Linked DNA regions of Homo sapiens: region 2 is linked to region 1. A link means that fine-mapping ties the variant in region 1 to the expression of a gene that starts in the linked region. Tissue or cell type: whole blood. Region 1 holds a variant in brackets; the other region holds the start of a gene. All regions are shown on one strand. Distances are from middle to middle.

Evidence for each region. PIP is the estimated chance that this variant, and not a neighbour inherited with it, causes the effect.
Region 2: SESN2 starts here. The variant in region 1 is fine-mapped to the expression of SESN2 in whole blood (INTERVAL, PIP above 0.99).

The regions. Positions count from the first base shown.
Region 1 is chr1:28,304,811-28,307,491 of GRCh38, forward strand. No RefSeq gene overlaps it. Among named protein-coding and RNA genes, the nearest start is that of MED18, 23 kb to the right of the region's middle. The variant A/C (reference allele first, on the strand shown) is at 1,549.
Region 2 is chr1:28,258,446-28,261,126 of GRCh38, forward strand. SESN2 (sestrin 2) reads left to right here and starts at 1,073. Exons shown (of 10, transcript NM_031459.5): 1 at 1,073-1,492. The coding sequence starts at 1,403. RefSeq lists enhancers at 644-823, 816-1,664 and silencers at 934-1,143, 1,924-1,983.

The sequences.
Region 1 (2,681 bases):
CCTCCTGCCTCTACCTCCTCCTTTACACTGGTAATTCTGTCTCCATTTTTATAATTTTGTCATTTCAAGAATTTTATATAAATAAATCATACAGTGTTTAATCTTTTGAGACTGGCTTTTTTTCACTCATCATGATTCTCTGGAAATTCATCCAGATTGTTCCAAGTATTCATATTTGTTCTCTCTCTTTTTTTTTTTTTTTTTTTTGAGACAGGGTCTGGCTTTGTCACCCAGGCTGGAGTGCAGTAGCGCAATCAGAGCTCACTGGCATCACCGACCTCTCTGCCTCAAGTGATCCTGCCACTTCAGCCTCCCGAGTAGCTGGGACTACAGGTGTGTGCCACCATGCCCAGCTAATTTTTGTAATTTTTTGTACAAGTGGAGTCTCCCTGTGTTGCTCAGGCTGGCCTTGAGCTCCTGGGCTCAAGTGATCCTCCCACCTCAGCCTCCCAAAGTGTTGAGATTACAGGCATGAGCCACAATGCCCGGCCTCGTTTCTTTTTATTTCTGGGTAATACTCCATGCTGAGTGGTATTCTGTGGATGTACCATGGTTTGTTTAACCATCCACCTATTGAAGAACATCTGGATTGTTTCCAGTTTGGGGATACTACCAATAAAACTGCTTTAAACATTCAACTACAGGTTTTTGTCTTAATGTAAGTCTTCATTTCTCTGGGATAAATGCTCAGGATTGCAATTGCCAGGTTGTATGGTAGCTGTGTGATTCTTTTTTTTTTTTTTTTTTTTTTTTTTGAGATGGAGTTTTACTTTTGTCGCCCAGGCTGGAGTGCAATGGCAGGATCTTGGGTCACTGCAACCTCCTTCTCCTGGGTTCAAGCGATTCTTCTGCCTCAGCCTCCTGAGTAGCTGGGATTACAGGCTCCCACCACCACTCCCAGCTAATTTTTGTATTTTTACTAGAGATGGGGTTTCACCATGTTGGCCAGGCTGGTCTCAAACTCCTGACCTCAGGTGATCCACCTCCCTCAGCCTCCCAAAGTGCTGGGATTACAGGCACAAGCCACTGTACCCGCCTATGCGGTTCATTTTTTAAGAAACTGACAGGCTAGCCACGGTGGCTCACGCCTGTAATCCCAGCACTTTGGGAGGCCGAGGCAGGTGGATCACCTGAGGTCAGGAGTTCAAGACCAGCCTGGCCAACATGGTGAAACCCCGTCTCTACTAAAAATACAAACGTTAGCCGGGCATGGTGGTGAACGCCTGTAATCCCAGCTACTCAGGAGGCTGAGGCAGGAGAATCACTTGAACCTGGGAAGCACAGGTTGCGGTGAGCCAAGATTCCGCCACTGCACTCCAGTCTGGGCGATAGAGCGAGACTCTGTCTTAAAAAAGAAAAAGAAAAAGAAACTGACAAAGTTTTCCAGAGTGCAGGGCCCAGGATTTTAATCACACTATTCTACTGCTTATAAATTAACCTATAAAATCTTTTATTTTTAAAAGAATAAAAAGAAATTTTCTTCCTGTTATGGCTGTGATGAACTTTAGTAAGCATACAGTAAACAAAACAAAACAAAACAAAACAAAA[A/C]AAAAAACAGCAATATAAGTTATTTTTTATTTTAAAAACTCTTCACAGGACACTTACACATTGAAATACATACAGCCAAGGGCTGCTGAGCTGTTGGCCTTCCGGAAGCTTAAGCACTTCATCTTTTCTCTGGCATGTGGTCTCTGTGGGTCCTCAGATGCCAGGATCACATGTTCGCTGCTCACTGAGCTCTTAGGAAGCCCCTGTGCTACCCTGTAGGCAGAAATTATCCTTTTTGAATCAGGTAAGTAACAGAAACCTCCTCAGCTTTAAGCTAGAAAGGGAACTCTCTTTCTGAAGGTACAGGAGGTGCAGCTGACCCATGCAAAGGACTGGAGTTAGGAAATGGAGAGTTCTGCAGATCCAATCAGCCAGCCCAGGGGGCCAGTCCCATGGTGCAAGTGTAGTTGCAGGCAAACAAAATAAGATCTTGGGCTCAGGAGTCCAACAACTTGAGTTGAAATCCTGGTTCTACCACTTACAAGCCATGTGACCCTAGGCAAGTTACTTAACCTCTCAGACCCCAGTTTCCTTATCTTAAAATGGGGTAATAAGCCTGGGCAACATAGTGAGACTTTGTGTCTCTCTAAAAAAAAAAAAAAATTTAGCCAGGCATGGTGGCACCCACCTATGGTCCCAGCTACTTGGGAGGCGGAGGTGAGAGGAACACTTGAGCCAGGGAGCTTGAGGCTGCAGTGAACCATGATTGCACCACTGCGCCCCACCAGGGTGACAGAGCAAGACCCTGTCTAAAATAAAATAAAATAAAATAAATAAAATAAAATAGAATGGGGTAATAATTGCATCTACAGTATTAGGTTCATATGGAGATTAATGAGTTGATGCATATAAAAAATGCTTTAAAGGAGTCAGGCAGGCCGGGCGCAGTGGCTCATGCCTGTAATCCCAGCACTTTGGGAGGCCGAGGCGGGCGGATCACCTGAGGTCGGAAGTTCGAGACCAGCCTGACCAACATGGAGAAACCCCGTCTCTACTAAAAATATAAAATTAGCTGGGCATGGTGGTGCATGCCTGTAATCCAAGCTACTCAGGAAGCCGAGAGAGGAGAATCGCTTCAACCCAGGAGGCAGAGGTGGCGGTGAGCCAAGATCGCGCGCCATTGTACTCCAGCC
Region 2 (2,681 bases), 46 kb before region 1:
ATCTTTGGAATTGTAAGCTTAGACTTAGAAGTCTCAGAGGGGGACTTGGGGGTCTTATCCACCCTCACCCCTGGCAGGATTCCCTGTCTAGAATAAACAATAACTTTAAAATGGAAACAAAAAAAGGAGCTCTGAAGGAAAACTGTGAAGGAAGAGGCTCCGTTTGAAATGAATAGAAAATGAATTTAGCTTGGAGGTGCTGAGGTGTTGGTAGAGGCAACTTTCTGGCAAGAGGCGAGTTGAAGGCCAGGAAGTGAATGAGATCAGGGAGAGTGTCTGGAGGGAAGAGGGGCAAAAACAAACTGGGGAAGCACCCACGTTTTAGGAAGTGGGTGGTGAAAGAGGAGTCAGAGAAGGCCAGAGGGAGAGGTGAGCAAAGATCCAGCAGAACACCTTGTTACAAAGTTTCGAGGAGGGTGGGAGGGGTGGAAGCCAGGACGGGTAGCAGAAGGAAGAAAACTTCCAGCAATAGGGATTGAGGTTCCACACGAAGTTACCAATGACATTTCAAGGAATGAAGGCTTTTCCTGAGGCTCCACAAATAAGGTGAATTCCCTGTGTCTCGCATCTTTGGAGCTTCCCCGAGGCCAGGGGGAGCAGGGTTGTGCCCTCTGACCTCTAAATATCTGGGGTTCAGTTCTATAATTAGCAGCACCGGATAGGACGCGAGCCAAACCTCTCTTAACCCTAGCCAGTCCCTCCAGGAACTGAAAAGATGAAGAATTCATTTAGGAGATTTCACACTCGGCTGTTTGGCCTAGCCCAGTGAAGTCCCTTTTCATCACGCAACCCTAATGACTCTTAGGGCTGTCACTGCCGTCTGGTGTTGCCAGGGATCTGACTAAACCGTCTTGCAAAAGTTTGCAGCATTCACCCGAGGCGGACTACAACTCCCAGAATTCCGGGCGCTCCCCGGTGCTGATTGGCGGAGCCCGTGACTCCAGGGGGCGGAGTTTCCCCCGCCTCCCCGGGGAAACAGACCTCTGATTGGCTGGACCGCCGGGCTTTTGTGTCCCCGCCCTCCCCCGGGGACCGCAGCGGGCTGAACTGCTGGTGTCAGAGCCCGGCGAGCGCTGGCAGTTCCGCGGCGGGGATGCTGAGGAGCGCTGGGTCCGGGAGCAGCCCTGGCCCCTGCGGACTTCCGAGGCCGTGAAAACCCCTGCGCTGCGGCCCTTCCCAGGCCCCCGAGGCCGTTCGCCGTTCCCGAAGCCCGACTGGGGGAAGAGTCCAGCACCAAAGCGGCCGTTCTCGGATTCCGGAGCGTTCTGGAGCCCCGAGAGACGCCCCGGGGTTCTAGAAGCTCCCCGGCGGCGCCCAGTCCCGGCTTCATTCGGGCGTCCCTCCGAAACCCACTCGGGTGCACGGGTCGTCGGCGAGCCGCGACCGGGTCCTGGCGCGCACCATGATCGTGGCGGACTCCGAGTGCCGCGCAGAGCTCAAGGACTACCTGCGGTTCGCCCCGGGCGGCGTCGGCGACTCGGGCCCCGGAGAGGTAAGCGGCGGCCGCGCGACGCCCCTCTTCCCTGGAACCCCGAACCGCGTCTGAGCCTCAGGCTGTCCGGAGCTGAGTCGGTGTGTCCTGGGCTCGGGGAGGGAAAGCCGAGCGCGTAACCCGGGACCCGGGTTGCATCAACTGGCAGCCGCGGCCCTCGGCACCCCTCCCCCACTCTGTCTCCCCTCTCCCTCCTTCTCCCCCTCCCTCTCCCCCTCCTCCCTCCCTCTCCCCCTCTCCCTCACCGCCCCACCCCAGGGCCGCGGATCCTTCCTCGGCTCCCTCGGACTCCTGGCCAATGAGGGAGAAGCCTTCTGGAGGCTCTCCGAGCTTTGGGCTCCTGAGCGTCTTCAAGTCCAGGCAAATCCCGGCCGGAGCGGCCAGACCACTCCTCCTCCCCGCCCCCTTCCGCGGAGTCCCTTCCTCTTCGCGGGGGCCGGCGGGCAGAGGACCCTTCCTGGGGTGCCTCCCGGCTCCTGTCCCCCAGCGCGGGGCGTAGGCACCTGGGACTGGCCAGTGAAAGTCGACCTCATCCTATGTCCACCGCACTCCTGCTTTGGAGGGAGAGCGCAGGGGCTCTGGGGGCTTGGCGGGCCGCCCGGTACGCGGCGGCGGCAGCCAAAGCTGGGGGGAGAGGGGACAACCCTGGTCGCGGCTTCCGAAGCCAAGCGCGGGTTAGGCTGCGCCCTGCTAAGTAAGTGGTCTGAAGGCCCAGAAGTTTGTTTTCCAGAAATTCCTCCCCCACCCTCCCTTCGCGCCGCTCCCCTCCACCCCCCCGCATTCGCATCCCGGCATAGCCCGCAGGGGCTTTGCAGGGAGACCGGGAATTAGGCTGGACCTAACCAGACTGACAGTTCGCACTCCCCCACCACTACCAGCAGCAGCGATAATGGACATCTTATCATTTATTATGCACCTACTAGATACCAGGCTCTGAGTTTTTTTCGCCTTTAACCTAAGTCCTCAGGACTAAACCAGCAATACAAGCTACGCTATAGCCCCATTTTACAGGAAGAACATTGAGGCCCACGATGGGCTCAGAAAGAGGCTTTCTTCATTAACCCCACTGAATATCTTGTTCTTTGGCCTTATGATTTCGGAGATTGCACGGCACTAGGAGCTTCTAGTTGCTTTAGTTTACAGGCCTAGAGTGTGGTGGAAGTTGTATTCTGGACCTGGGATTTGGTGG